Homo sapiens: one gene and its partners. The protein of the gene in region 1 interacts with the protein of each later gene in a biochemical or structural test. Each region holds a gene or a part of one and is shown in the gene's direction. Other genes may lie near its edges.

Evidence for each region.
Region 2: the proteins of CLTA (region 1) and HIP1R form a complex in vitro, tested with the Homo sapiens proteins (one study listed by BioGRID).
Region 3: the proteins of CLTA (region 1) and CALY form a complex in vitro, tested with the Homo sapiens proteins (one study listed by IntAct).

Annotation. Positions count from the first base shown.
Region 1 is NC_000009.12:36,207,601-36,213,147, forward strand, and holds the end of CLTA (clathrin light chain A), read left to right. Parts: exon of another isoform or gene 1-954; intron 955-1,666; coding exon of another isoform or gene 1,667-1,720; intron 1,721-3,024; coding exon of another isoform or gene 3,025-3,060; intron 3,061-4,002; coding exon 4,003-4,174; 3' UTR 4,175-4,459; downstream 4,460-5,547. UniProt on the Homo sapiens protein: Clathrin is the major protein of the polyhedral coat of coated pits and vesicles.
Region 2 is NC_000012.12:122,859,153-122,864,065, forward strand, and holds the end of HIP1R (huntingtin-interacting protein 1-related protein), read left to right. Parts: coding exon 1-45; intron 46-273; coding exon 274-384; intron 385-619; coding exon 620-678; intron 679-894; coding exon 895-925; intron 926-995; coding exon 996-1,058; intron 1,059-1,270; coding exon 1,271-1,371; intron 1,372-1,526; coding exon 1,527-1,632; intron 1,633-1,763; coding exon 1,764-1,887; intron 1,888-1,978; coding exon 1,979-2,040; intron 2,041-2,155; coding exon 2,156-2,362; intron 2,363-2,553; coding exon 2,554-2,601; 3' UTR 2,602-3,809; downstream 3,810-4,913. UniProt on the Homo sapiens protein: Component of clathrin-coated pits and vesicles, that may link the endocytic machinery to the actin cytoskeleton. Binds 3-phosphoinositides (via ENTH domain).
Region 3 is NC_000010.11:133,323,011-133,327,243, reverse strand, and holds the end of CALY (neuron-specific vesicular protein calcyon), read left to right. Parts: intron 1-252; coding exon 253-366; intron 367-963; exon of another isoform or gene 964-1,009; coding exon of another isoform or gene 1,010-1,123; coding exon 1,124-1,417; 3' UTR 1,418-1,445; intron 1,446-1,677; 3' UTR 1,678-3,172; downstream 3,173-4,233. UniProt on the Homo sapiens protein: Interacts with clathrin light chain A and stimulates clathrin self-assembly and clathrin-mediated endocytosis.

The DNA of each region.
Region 1 (5,547 bases):
CTTTCAAGTGAAGGACAAATAAGGGGAGGGCCACCTGTGTGTGTGTCTGATTTTCTGTTTGTTCTGGGCCTGCAACCTTGACAGGGGATGTGCTTGTCACTGAGGAGCTCTTTGGTCTTGGGCTAGCTGCAAAGGAGCAAGAGCCTGACATTCAAACTTTTGTTGTCTTAGTGATGATTTGACAGGAGTCATGAAACCTCTACTCTTCTTGTGGAGGGAAACCCAAGTTGAAATCGATCAGGTTTAGTCCTTTGTGTAAACTAAAAGGGTTATGGGTTTATAAGCCAGCCTGCCTTGCCTTTTCCTCCCACTCATTCTGCCCACAAACAACTCTGTTTTCCTGCTGAGTCACTTTAAGTTATAATCAGCCTGCTCTTTTTGCTTTCTTTAAATTTCCACAAAACACCTCCTGTGTATAAAACAAAATGGGAAAGAAGGAAGGGCATGTGTGAGCTTAAAAATTAACTTAAAATTACTAGAATTTGCCTTCAAATAAGTATGTGAGGTTAGCTTAATGACCAGGCATGATTATCCTTGAAAAATGTCTTTCCCCTTGCCCACCCCAAATCGACTTGACAAAGGACAGGGTAAGACTCCATGAGGGAGGTTCCATGTCCAGCCACAGTGGAGAAGAGTGGGCTGGCAGAGCCCAGGGAGTCAGTCCAGGACAACAGAGTCAAAGCCAGCCTGGCCCCTGCTGTCAAAATTTATCCACCCAGTCTGCCCCCTCCTTCCTGTCTGAGAGCCCTGCCATGTTGAGAGTTAAGAAGGGATGAAGTTCTGGATTCTGGGCTGCACCTTATCAAAGCCAATTGAGTCTGGTGTAAAAATATTCAGAAACTGTACCCGCTTCTTGAGTAGAGAGAGAGCCATATTCAGGAACAACAGAAGCCAGGGCCAGGATCCTAGTCCAGTGTTCTTCCCACCAGACCACTCACCTCCAGCCGTTTTTTCCTGTAAGGTTGAGATTTTAAAATGACGATATGTGTTCCCAGGATTCTGGAAGTGTATCCCACCCAGACAGTGTGGGGAAGCAGTAGTTAGATAATCCAAGATAAAACTGGCTTTGGGTCCTAGCGCATCTGGTGTCTGGCAGCATTCCTGCCCAGTGCATTAACTGAAACAGGAAGGTGGCGTGGCTTTCTGGGCACATACAGCAGGGAAGAAGCATGACTATACAGTAGAAAGAGCCCTGGACTTAGGGCCAGGCTGCCTTGGTTGTGAGTCCTGAATGCTGCCACTGTGGTGTAGCTGAGCAAGTTGTTCATCTCTAAGCCTCAGTTACCTCATCTGTACAGTGGGGGTGAGAACAGTCAGGGTCATAGGTTGTTAACAGTTAAGGATTGAATCAACATAATGTATGTGAAAGGGCTTAGTCCATGATTGGGTGCTTAATAAATGCCCGTGTTGCTGGGGTGAGCCAAAGGGATGAAGTTGGCAGTGCTTGCTCTGTCGTGGAGCAGTCCCCACGTGGGAAGGCCAGCGGGAAACCAGGCCTGCTGAAGTCTCCAGCGCTGGAAGCCTCACGGGGGTTAGGAAGGAGCCTTGGGAGCAGCTCCTCAGAGCACAGTTGTACCTCAATTGTGGATTTTAGATGTTTCTGCTTCTCAATGTTCTCTCTTTTTTCCTGCCTGCTTGCCTGCCTTTTGGACCTCTTGCTGTCTAGGGTGGCAGATGAAGCTTTCTACAAACAACCCTTCGCTGACGTGATTGGTTATGTGTATGTTGCAAAACTAATTCCTTTTTCTACATCTGATTCTTTCTACTTTTGTTTAGAGTTAATGCTCCTTTTATGTCACAAGTTGCTTTGCTTTTTAAATTATTTCAAATTGGCACTTTGGGGGCTGCCTAAGAATTGATAAGCGGGGTATGATCTGTTGATGAATCTTCCAGATTTGTGACTCCCTGCATCCTCTGATGGCCATTTTTCATATTTGGGGTTTTGGAGGGAAGAAAGCTAACTCGCTTTCAAAATGTGTCATTTGCGATCTTATCTGGGAACGGTTTGAGGCTCGGGGGAACTCTGCTCTCTTGCTCTTGGCTGCCATCACTGCTGCCATGCCCTGTTGCCTGCCTGCCTCAGGTGGGAAGGAGGTTTCCCCACCTGGGAGCAGGTGGCAGTCCCAGGAGGTTAGGAGCCAGTGAGCAGCAGCACCTTGCATTGCCAAAATCAGAGCTGTGGGGCAGCATTTTCCATACTTGGTTCATTCAAACAATGTGGGGTCGTTTGCCTCTCCCTCAGGCAGAAGAGTCCAGAGCAGAGGGGGTTGTCTCCAGTGGGTGTCTATAATTGTTCCTCTGTGGTCTTGCATGTCAGAAATTGCTATTTAGTGGTCAGCTTCTGATGTCCTGTCTCCTAGCACAGGGAAGCCCCCAGCTTTGAGATCAGGATAGTCAAAGTGTCTTGATACGGGCCACTTGGGCTTCTCCCCCTGACCCCCCCAAAAGAAACCTGCATCTTCTCTGGAGAAGGTGTTTTTCTTATTCTTTTTTTTTTCTTTTTTTCTTTTTTCTTTTTTTTAAGGATTTCTTTTATCAAAGCAGTATTGCTGAAGAGTTGGAAACAGTTCTCATTGTCTCCTCCTTAAAAATTAGGGCTGGCTTTACATGAGAAGTAAGGGTGGAATGGAAGAGGAGAGGAACCTGTGGAAGGTGGGCGATGAGCTCAGGTCTGTAGAGCCTCTCAGGGCCTATGACCTTGAGATGTTCATCCCCTTAGAAGATAGAACTGGGTTTCCTGGGCCCCCAGATGCATTTGCAGTGAGACTTGTGAAATGCTGGACTTACAGGTGGTGTTTGATTTGATTTCTGCACATTCTCTCTGGAGTAGAAATGGAGACTGGAAAGGTCGAGTCTGGTTTTGCTGGGCAGCTGGGTGGCCAGCAAAGCCAGCTGCACGTCCCCAAGCACAGATAGAGTGGCAAGGGCATGTCCAGCTTACTGACCATCTGCATTGAGCTCATTCTCATTTTCTATATCTGACTTAAAGTTTCTCTCGTTTCTTTTCTTCTCTTCACCTTTAAGCACAAACATAAACCATCCTTGCTACAGCCTAGAACAGTTAAGTAAACCTTTCTCACTGCCCCTAACTGTGTGTGCCATGAAGTCGCAGTGTTGTAGTGGCTCTGGGCTTCAGCGGTGTTTGCCACGGCCATCCCTGTGATAGTGCCACCCCTCCGTCCCCACAGACCAGTCATCTCCATTGCTTTTGCTTTGCCCGTGATGCTTGTTGGAGTAGATGAATATAGTGTGTCTTAGCGCTGTCCTTTCCGGCTGTAGCTCCCACCAGTTAATTCCGAACTGGGGGTGGGCTGACCTTGATGTGAAAGAATGTTGGAGCAGCATCCTGCCAAAAAGCAACTCACGTTGGCTCTCCTGCCAGTGTGCCCTGAGTGGCCCCAAGGCACCTGGCTGGAGGGAAAATGGCAAACTTTTGGCTGAACTGGAGAATGTCCTAACAAACCCCCTTCCAGAATGGCTTTAGTCTCTAGTGCTTGCTAGCATGGGAGCTTTGTCTTGAATTCCTTTTGATCTGCCCCGTTTCTCTCCAGCCTTAGGAATAAATCTAGAGGCTATTGTGCAATGATCTGTGGGCTTTTTAGAAGTCTCTAAATTTCCTTGAAATTCAGTACAGCCCAGCATAAACTACTCAAGTTCTTGATCAGCCTGCTGCTTTGTTCTTATTAATAAAAGCAGTGTGTAGCTGGCTAAGGACTTGTTTTATTAATGCTCCACAGGAGCAGAGACAGACAGAGAGACATAGTGAGCCTTGAACCAAACACCTGTATTCCAACATTTTACACAGCGGTCTGGGCACCCTGTGCCTAGGAGAGCCAGCTACGTGTCTACCTGAGTCTGACCTGGGCCAGGGGCTGTTATCTTGGGAAAGCCAGAATGTCATTAAGAAAGGGACAAATAGGCAGTTGCTTGTGTAGCAAGGCAGCCACCAGGTTGCTCAAAGGGGGTTCTGCATAAACCAACATATTTTGTTGTTGCTTCCAGGGCAGCAGAAGAAGCCTTTGTAAATGACATTGACGAGTCGTCCCCAGGCACTGAGTGGGAACGGGTGGCCCGGCTGTGTGACTTTAACCCCAAGTCTAGCAAGCAGGCCAAAGATGTCTCCCGCATGCGCTCAGTCCTCATCTCCCTCAAGCAGGCCCCGCTGGTGCACTGAAGAGCCACCCTGTGGAAACACTACATCTGCAATATCTTAATCCTACTCAGTGAAGCTCTTCACAGTCATTGGATTAATTATGTTGAGTTCTTTTGGACCAAACCTTTTTGTCTTTAGAGTTGTTCATTGTTTGTGATTGCATGTTTCCTTCCTTCAACTGTGTTCTCCCTGGCATTCAGAGAGGAGGGAGAGGAGGAAGAGGAAGGGGAGGGAAGCTTCCCAAGAGTAGCCTCAACCTGTGCTTCTGTGCATTATTCTGAGAATAAATTTCTGTTTCAAACTGTATTATGTGAAGCTTCTTTATTGACCTCAAGATGTGTTGTAGTTTGGAGTGAGGTTGGAAGGAATTTCCAGGAGGAATTTCCTTGAAATTTCTAGGGCTGAGGAGGCACAGCCACTGGGCACACAGCCCTGCCTTGAACTAAGATAGCACCGGGATCTAGAGTGGGATCCTGTGGACATTTTCATTTGAGAAGGGAGTTTAGTGGCTGAAGGTTAACCCCCTCATTATCTACCTAAGACACAGCTGTGAATCCTCTCACCAACCTAGTCGTTTTCTCCCAGATGGGCTCTTGCTTGCCAGTGTCCCTCAGTTTAGGGTCTTGGATAGTATATTTCGGCAGGAGTCTGTGGGGCACGTAGACTCTAGTAAGACCTTGACTCCTTTGGATCCGGCCAGTAAGCCTGAGTCAGGACGGCATTCATGTGTGGCTAGCCCCATTACTGTTGAGTCCTGTAGCACATGTTGGGTTCTGTGCCATCCCAAGCACTTGGTTCATATTTCTCTTGTAAAATCCTTCATCTAGACCTGTGCTGTCCAGTGCAGTATTCACCAGGCCCATGTGGCTATTTAAATGAATTTAAAATACATTTCTAGTCCTAGTCACAATTCATGTGCTCAGTAGCCATATGTGGTTAGGTGGCACTCGGATAGCACAGGTTATAGAACATGTCCATGGTCGCAGAAAGCTGCACTGGACCATGCTGATCTACCACAGGTGTTTCCAGGAGCCCGTGCTTTGTTCAGACACCAGTAAGTTCATTATCTGTCTTCAGAACCTGGCATAGTACCTGGCTCGTTTTAGGTGATGTTCCAAGCAATTATTAAAGCTATATTTCAGTAATCTGCTTATAACTACCTGGTACTTCCAAACTGGAGATTGAGGTAAACTGTAATACTATGCTCAGGATGGGGGTTAGGTGTTGCCATTGCCAAGAAGGAAAGGCCACTATCTCTTCAATGTTAATTATTTTTGGCTGGAAGGAGCTTTCATTACTTTTCCTGCTACCTCCCCGTTTCCAAGCTTAGTTGGGCTTTCCTTGACCTGGCCCACATTTCTGGCCTCTGCTTATTCCTCCCCCTTTAGTCAAAT
Region 2 (4,913 bases), on another chromosome or scaffold:
AGCCTGGTGCGGACACCCCTGCAGGGCATCCTTCAGCTGGGCCAGGTGAGGCACAGCTGAGTGTGGGTTTGGGAGGCTTGGGCCTGCCTCTGACCTCTGCACCCACCTCTGGGTTGGCTGAACAGGTGTTTGTGCGTGGAGCCTGCAGCCTCAGGACACAGGGTGGGGACCATGCACCCTCCTCGATCCCTGTGGTCCCCAACCTCTTTCCCAGGCTGCCCGTGGGACGGGGGGGGACGGAGGCTACCCCTGTCTGACTCCCATCCTCACCAGGAACTGAAACCCAAGAGCCTAGATGTGCGGCAGGAGGAGCTGGGGGCCGTGGTCGACAAGGAGATGGCGGCCACATCCGCAGCCATTGAAGATGCTGTGCGGAGGATTGAGGTGAGCACGGGATCTGGGGACTCCCCTCATTCCTGTGGAGCTTTGGGGGCCGGAGGCCCCAACTGGGCTGGGTACAGGCTGCACCCACTCCTGCTCTCAGCCTCCAGACAGAGGACAGATGGCGTTTTCCAGGGGCCTGTGAGGTCAGAGCTGAGAGGGCAGGAGGCAGCCCTGGCTTTCCCAGGACCACGGTCCCCTCCTCCCAGCCAGCTCACGGCTCTGTTCTTGGGTGCAGGACATGATGAACCAGGCACGCCACGCCAGCTCGGGGGTGAAGCTGGAGGTGAACGAGAGGTGAGCCCCCCTTCTGTCCCCCCAGGCCCAGCCGAGGTGGGCTCCCCGTGGCCCCTAAGGTTCTGCCCCCAACTGTTCTGCTCACGGGAAAGGAAGGCCTGGCTCAGAGCAGACACTCCCTCCCCACCTGCTGAGCCCTGATGTGGCCAGGCCCGCCATGGCGTCGTGTGGGCTGCTCTGCAGAGCGGCAGCTAAGTCTCTCCTTCTCTCCCCCAGGATCCTCAACTCCTGCACAGACCTGATGAAGGTGAGGGGCTGTGACCCGGGGGGGTCTGCACCTGGAGGGCCACCAGTCATTGCTGTCTTGGTCTCGGCAGGCTATCCGGCTCCTGGTGACGACATCCACTAGCCTGCAGAAGGAGATCGTGGAGAGCGGCAGGGTGAGGGGCCGGCGGCAGCAGGGCACAGTCCACAAGGAGCCTGACCCCCAGCCTAGGCCACCCTGGGCATGAGACCCTCCACCCCCTACCACAGGGAGGCCTCAGGGATGCGCCCTATGGCCAGAGTGAGGGGGAGAGGGCCCTTGAGGGCCACTTTCCACCTTTGGTGTCCTTGACTGGCATGTCCTGCCCTGTTCTCCCGTCGCCACTAGGGGGCAGCCACGCAGCAGGAATTTTACGCCAAGAACTCGCGCTGGACCGAAGGCCTCATCTCGGCCTCCAAGGCTGTGGGCTGGGGAGCCACACAGCTGGTGTAGGTTGCCCTGGGTGGGGGGGGGCAGGGGGCTGCTTCCTGCCAGTTGGAGCAGTTTGGGGTTCAACAGGGTGCAGGGAGTAGAGGGGGTGTGGAGTGGTGCCAGCCGTCCGTGGGGTCAGAGACCCTGGCCCTGACTGGCCCTTGACCCGCAGGGAGGCAGCTGACAAGGTGGTGCTTCACACGGGCAAGTATGAGGAGCTCATCGTCTGCTCCCACGAGATCGCAGCCAGCACGGCCCAGCTGGTGGCGGCCTCCAAGGTGAGCTTGCACGCCGACAGCAGCACACTGGGCTCTGGGCCCAGCTTGGCCTGGGCTGTGGCTGCCAAGCCCAGGCCTGCTGCTGCCCTGAGCTGGGAGACCTGGGCCCACCCTGACCTCTCGCCCCTCAGGTGAAGGCCAACAAGCACAGCCCCCACCTGAGCCGCCTGCAGGAATGTTCTCGCACAGTCAATGAGAGGGCTGCCAATGTGGTGGCCTCCACCAAGTCAGGCCAGGAGCAGATTGAGGACAGAGGTGAGTGCCAGATGCCAACGGGGGCTGCTGGCTCCCGAGGCTGAATGGGGGTGGGTGCCCAGATGTTCACCCCCTTGTCCTCCGGCCACAGACACCATGGATTTCTCCGGCCTGTCCCTCATCAAGCTGAAGAAGCAGGAGATGGAGACCCAGGTAGGCGCCCATGGCTGCCCCGTGACCTCTGAGCTCATCCCTCGGGCGAAGCCTGGACCCAGGAGAGAGCTCCCTGGGGAGGCTGGGCTGGGCTGAGCAGGCCGTGTGGCTACAGGTGCGTGTCCTGGAGCTGGAGAAGACGCTGGAGGCTGAACGCATGCGGCTGGGGGAGTTGCGGAAGCAACACTACGTGCTGGCTGGGGCATCAGGCAGCCCTGGAGAGGAGGTGGCCATCCGGCCCAGCACTGCCCCCCGAAGTGTAACCACCAAGAAACCACCCCTGGCCCAGAAGCCCAGCGTGGCCCCCAGACAGGACCACCAGGTGCCGTCTGCACTGGGATGGGGGAGTTCCTGGACGGGGGTGCTGTCCCCAGCCCTAGAGGGGCACATGGTGCACGTCCCTGGGGAAGTCAGGGACCACTGACAACATGCAGGGAGGAGCTTGCTCAAGGGAGAGGTGGGGCCCCAGGTGCCTGGCTGTGACCACTGACCCCCCACCTTTAACCCCTGCAGCTTGACAAAAAGGATGGCATCTACCCAGCTCAACTCGTGAACTACTAGGCCCCCCAGGGGTCCAGCAGGGTGGCTGGTGACAGGCCTGGGCCTCTGCAACTGCCCTGACAGGACCGAGAGGCCTTGCCCCTCCACCTGGTGCCCAAGCCTCCCGCCCCACCGTCTGGATCAATGTCCTCAAGGCCCCTGGCCCTTACTGAGCCTGCAGGGTCCTGGGCCATGTGGGTGGTGCTTCTGGATGTGAGTCTCTTATTTATCTGCAGAAGGAACTTTGGGGTGCAGCCAGGACCCGGTAGGCCTGAGCCTCAACTCTTCAGAAAATAGTGTTTTTAATATTCCTCTTCAGAAAATAGTGTTTTTAATATTCCGAGCTAGAGCTCTTCTTCCTACGTTTGTAGTCAGCACACTGGGAAACCGGGCCAGCGTGGGGCTCCCTGCCTTCTGGACTCCTGAAGGTCGTGGATGGATGGAAGGCACACAGCCCGTGCCGGCTGATGGGACGAGGGTCAGGCATCCTGTCTGTGGCCTTCTGGGGCACCGATTCTACCAGGCCCTCCAGCTGCGTGGTCTCCGCAGACCAGGCTCTGTGTGGGCTAGAGGAATGTCGCCCATTACTCCTCAGGCCTGGCCCTCGGGCCTCCGTGATGGGAGCCCCCCAGGAGGGGTCAGATGCTGGAAGGGGCCGCTTTCTGGGGAGTGAGGTGAGACATAGCGGCCCGGGCGCTGCCTTCACTCCTGGAGTGAGTTTCCATTTCCAGCTGGAATCTGCAGCCACCCCCATTTCCTGTTTTCCATTCCCCCGTTCTGGCCGCGCCCCACTGCCCACCTGAAGGGGTGGTTTCCAGCCCTCCGGAGAGTGGGCTTGGCCCTAGGCCCTCCAGCTCAGCCAGAAAAAGCCCAGAAACCCAGGTGCTGGACCAGGGCCCTCAGGGAGGGGACCCTGCGGCTAGAGTGGGCTAGGCCCTGGCTTTGCCCGTCAGATTTGAACGAATGTGTGTCCCTTGAGCCCAAGGAGAGCGGCAGGAGGGGTGGGACCAGGCTGGGAGGACAGAGCCAGCAGCTGCCATGCCCTCCTGCTCCCCCCACCCCAGCCCTAGCCCTTTAGCCTTTCACCCTGTGCTCTGGAAAGGCTACCAAATACTGGCCAAGGTCAGGAGGAGCAAAAATGAGCCAGCACCAGCGCCTTGGCTTTGTGTTAGCATTTCCTCCTGAAGTGTTCTGTTGGCAATAAAATGCACTTTGACTGTTTGTTGTCACTGATGCCCCAGAGGGAGGGGCTGTGCCTGGCTCTTCATTCCTCCAGGGACACGTGTTCCCTTGTCGGCCCTGGCCAGGTGCTGGGGCGGGGACCTATTCATGTCTGCATTTAATGCTAGAGTACTTGGGACTGCAGAAAAGCTCAGCAGGGCTGTCACTGGCTGTGTGTGTGTCCGCCTTCCATCTCTCTCTCGGGGGATTTATGGGCCTCAGGGCCCTCCTTTTACACAGGAGGCCAAGAGCCAGCTGCCTCCACAGAGGCCACTTGCACTCCCAGCCTCAATGCCCACAGCTTCCCTGGGGCTCCTAGCAGTTGCTGACCCCCTCAGTGTGTCTGAGACCATGCCTGACTGACAGTTGCTAAGCTAAGGTGGGGACCCTGACTCCCGGCTGGCTTGGACTTGAGCCATGGCCACACACAGCCTTTGCACTTACCGGAAACCTGGAAAGGTGTTCAGTCCCTGGGTGTGTGGCAGCCTCACAAGCACCCACTTTACCCAGGAGCACCATGCCAGAGGGAAGGCTGAGGTGGGGGAGCTCACCCTGTCCTACCCCCTGCCAAGATCACTGGCATTTATAGAGAAACAGGACAGGGTGGGTCAGGGGAGAGAAAAGGCCCCTTGGCTGGCTCCTGTATGGCCTCAGACAAGCCTTCCACCTGTGCTCACGTCTCCTGGAGGATGAAGTGGGGCCTCAGCTAAGGCTGCGTAGCCGGGGTGCTTGTGCCGGGTGGTTAGGGTGAAAGGGCCTTGCAAACTGACCACAAGGGCTAAGACAGACCCTGTGCCTGGCTCTTGTTTGTTTACAAGGCAAGATGGCTTCAGAAACACTAACGGAACTGATTCTCCACCAGATACAAATGAAAATCCACAGGCATTGACAACGCTTAACTGATCATTCTTGAGTCCTCAATGACCAAACTTTTTTTTGAGATGGAGTCTTGCTGTCACCTAGGTGGCAATACAGTGGCGTGCCTTGGCTCACTACAACCTCCTCCCGGGTTCAAGAAATTCTGCCTCAGCCTCCCGAGCAGCTGGGATTACAGGCATGCACCACCATGCCTGGCTAATTTTTGTATTTTTAGTAGAGATGGGGGCTTTGCC
Region 3 (4,233 bases), on another chromosome or scaffold:
CATCACTTTACCTGGTGGCAGATGTTTCCAGAACCCCAGTGGAGGGGCCACCAGCAAGGCCTGGCCCCGAGGGGTGACGCCTGCACACTTGACCCTCGGAAAAGTTGGAAAAGCCACTGGCTGCCCAGGGCGGGGGTGGGGCATCAAGACTGGAGGGCGGGGATGGTCCTGTGCCAGCCCAGCCCCTGAGGAGCTCCCCACAAAGACCGCCCCTGCCTGGCGTGGCTGAGCCCCTCTCTGCCCTCCTGCCAGCTGCCCACCGCACGGATGATCGCCTTCGCCATGGCGCTACTGGGCTGCGTGCTGATCATGTACAAGGCCATCTGGTACGACCAGTTCACCTGCCCCGACGGCTTCCTGCTGCGGGTAAGGGGGCCAGGGCTCTGGTGGGGGGTGTAGAGCCGCCCCTCCTCCCGTAGCCTCCAGGCAGGGGGTGGCAGGGGTGTCTCCTGCTGCTGGGGGAACGTGGTCTCCAAAGCCATGTTCCTGTTACTTCTCTAGAACATGAGATCGTATCTTTTGAAAATTTAAAAGAAAAGATGAGTTAGTGATGGGTTTCTCTTCTTGTAATTTAAAAAATAAGTAAAAAGATGAGGCAGAAAAGGTCACCCTGCAGCCACCTCTCTAGGGGTCATCTGTCCTCCTGAGTGACTTGTGTGAGGTTTTATTTTTATATAACATGATATTAATGCTCCCCACCTATTTGGCAGATATTTTCTTCCATCCTTTTTTTTTTTAAATCTCTTTGTCAATAATGGTTATAGCTTTTAGTGTGTTTTTAGAAAGCCTTTTATTTATCAGAAGTAAAATCTGCTCCTTTTCTCCTTAACTCCATGGTTTATGCTCTGGAGCGCGCTCCGCAGAGTCCTTGCTGCGCTGGGCAGGTCCACTGGTGTCTGCGCCCCTCTCCCTGGGTGGCCCCTCCCCTTACAACGCGCGACCTCCTGCTCCATGCCCCTCCAGGGCCCTGAGTTCTGAACTGGAGGCTGATCTTCGGTGTCCTGAAGCCATGGCTCCATTACAAACTGTCCGCAGTGTCCCCAACCGCAGAAGCGGGAGGGCCTGGGCCCGGGGCGCACAGGAGGGCTCAGCCCCACCGACCCTGACCCGGCCCCTCCCGCAGCACAAGATCTGCACGCCGCTGACCCTGGAGATGTACTACACGGAGATGGACCCCGAGCGCCACCGCAGCATCCTGGCGGCCATCGGGGCCTACCCGCTGAGCCGCAAGCACGGCACGGAGACGCCGGCGGCCTGGGGGGACGGCTACCGCGCAGCCAAGGAGGAGCGCAAGGGGCCCACCCAGGCTGGGGCGGCGGCGGCGGCCACCGAACCCCCCGGGAAGCCGTCGGCCAAGGCGGAGAAGGAGGCGGCGCGGAAGGCGGCCGGGAGCGCGGCGCCCCCGCCCGCGCAGTGACGTCTCCAGCCCCGCAGCCCGGCCCGGGGTAGGTGCGCGCCGCGGGGCTCCGGCCGGCTCTGCCCAGGTCTCTTCCTGGCCTCCCGCCACCGCTTCTGAGCCAAAGACCCCCGCCACCCTTCCCTTCCTCTTCCCTCCGACCCGGCCCGCCAGAACCTCGGGGTTGGGGGTTGCGAATCCGAGCCCGCCGGGTGACGCGGGGTCCGCGGGGAGCCCCTGGCCGCGTCGCCGCTCTCAACCCTCGGGCTCTGTCTCCGCAGCGTCCTCCGCCAGCTCCTGTGACCAGCGCGTCTCCCGATGCTCTCCGCCGTGTTCGTGTCCCCAGGCGCCCTCGCTGCAGCCCCGCCCCCGTGGGTCTCTGACTCTGTCGCTTTTCTCTAAGTAAAGATTTCACGTCCACCGGAGGCTTCCATCTCTCCTGCGCGTCCTCTGCCGGGCTGGCCTTTCTCCCGCCCCCCACCCCGCCAGTTGTGAGTGAGGCCGGCATTGTGCTCCCCCCAGGGACCCCCGAAGGACCCAGGAGAGACCCCGTGGGGGGCAGCTCCCAGGAAGCCGTGGTGCGCCCAGGCGGAGCACGCGCATCCTCGCGCTGCGTGGTCCGGGCCTTGTCCAAGCCCCACCGGGATGTGCCTTAATGGCGGGGCTCCGGCCCACCCAGGGGAGCCTCGGGTCCATCCCTATCCGCTGCCCAGCCCCTTGTCCTGCTGGTTCCCCGACCCCCCGCCCCCATCTACCTGGTGCTGGGCCTGGGCCCCGGGCGTTCCCCCTCTGACAGGAGTGTCTGCCTCCCGGGGGACCCCTGGTTCTGGGCGGCACCCATGAGCAGCTCCTGCCTCCTAGATGTGTGGCCCACAGGCATAAATGACCAAGTGAAGAAAGGAGTGAATGGGGGCGTCTGAGTGGGGAGTGGGGCCTGATGAGGGGTGAGCTCTGGTTCCTGGGGGCTGGGGTCTCCCGTGTCCCTGGAGCCAGATGAAAGATGGTGAGGCTGAAACGCCAGGGGAGCCTGGAGCTGCCATGAGTCTCCCCCAGCATCCCCACCCCAGCCCCAGCATCCCCACCCCAGCCCCAGCATCCCCACCCCAGCCCCAGCCAACTCCCGGCACTGAACACTACAGGGAATGGACTTCCGGCAGATCTCACCCACCACCTGCACCACCCCAGCCAGCAGCAGCTCTGCAGCCCCGCCCACCCCAGCCAGCAGCAGCTCTGCAGCCCCGCCCACCCCAGCCAGCAGCAGCTCTGCAGCCCCGCCCACCCCAGCCAATTGCAGCACTGCAGCCCCGCCCACCCCAGCCAATTGCAGCACTGCAGCCCCGCCCACCCCAGCCAGCAGCGGCTCTGCAGCCCCGCCCACCCCAGCCCCCGACCATTGGTGGATGGAAGCCCCCCACCATTGGCTCCCAGGCTTGCTGGCTAGGTGCGGGTCTAGGCAGCTTCCCAGCTCAGTGGGACTGGCCTGCTTTGGAACAGCGGCAGTGCCCAGGAAGCCTGTGAACTGGGCCTGCCAGGGAAGCCATGGTGAGCTGGAAGCCAGCCAGGTGGGGTCAGGGAAGGCAGGGCCATGCACACCACACCCTTCACTGCTGGGCTTCTAAGGGCATTGGCCAGATGAACAAGCACACGCAGAACTGAATTGGCCCTGATGGCCTGCAAGGGAGGGGGGCCCGGGGCCTGGGGCGTCAGCTGGGATATATGGGGGCAGGGAGTCTCTGCATGGCCGATGTTTGAATTAAAATACAGCTTTCCCCTGTATTTTATTATTATTATTATTATTATTATTATTATTATTATTATTATTATTTTGAGAGGGAGTCTAGCTCTGTCGCCCGGGCTGGAGCGCAGTGGCGCGGTCTCAGGTCACTGCAAGCTCCGCCTCCCGGGTTCCCACCATTCTCCTGCCTCAGCTTCCTGAGTATCTGGGACTACAGGCGCCCGCCACTACGCCCAGCTAATTTTTTGTATTTTTAGTAGAGACGGGGTTTCACTGCGTTAGCAAGGATGATCTCAATCTCCTGATCTCGTGATCCGCCCGCGTCGGCCTCCCAAAGTGCTGGGATTACAGATGTGAGCCACCGCGCCCGGCCTTATTATTATTATTTTTTTGAGATGGAGTCTCGCTCTGTCACCCAGGCTGGAGTGCAGTGGCACGGTCTCGGCTCACTGCAAGCTCCGCCTCCCGAGTTCACACCATTCTCCTGCCTCAGCCTCCTGAGTAGCTGGGACTACAGGCGCCCGCCATCGCGCCCAGCTAAGTTTTTGTATTTTTAGTAGAGATGGGGTTTCACCATGATAGCCAGGATGGTCTCAATCTCCTGACTTCATGATCCATCCACGTCAGCCTCCCAAAGTACTGGGATTACAGGCGTGAGCCACCACGCCCAGTCTGTATTTTTTTTTTTAACATTTCGAGATAATTTCAAATTTGGAGAACAACTGTGATCATGTAAAGAACTCCCATGCACCCTTTACTGAGATTGCCCAGTGGCTGATGCCCTAATCCCTTTAGTGTTGCTGTAAAAAAAAGGAGGTTTATTTGGCTCACAGTTCTGGAGGCTGTACAAGAAGCACAGCATCAGCATCTGCTTTTGGTGGGGCCTCAGGCTGTGTCCACGTATGCTGGATGGGGAAGCAGGCCTGGTGTGCAGAGACCACAGGGCCAGAGAGGAAGCAGGAGAAGGATGGAGGGAGGTGCTAGGTTCTTTTTCTTTTTTTGAGACAGGGTATGCTCTGTTGCCCAGGCTGGAGTGCAGTGGCACAATCACAGCTTGCTGCAGCCTCCACCTCTTGGGCTCAAGTGATCCTCCCATCTCAGC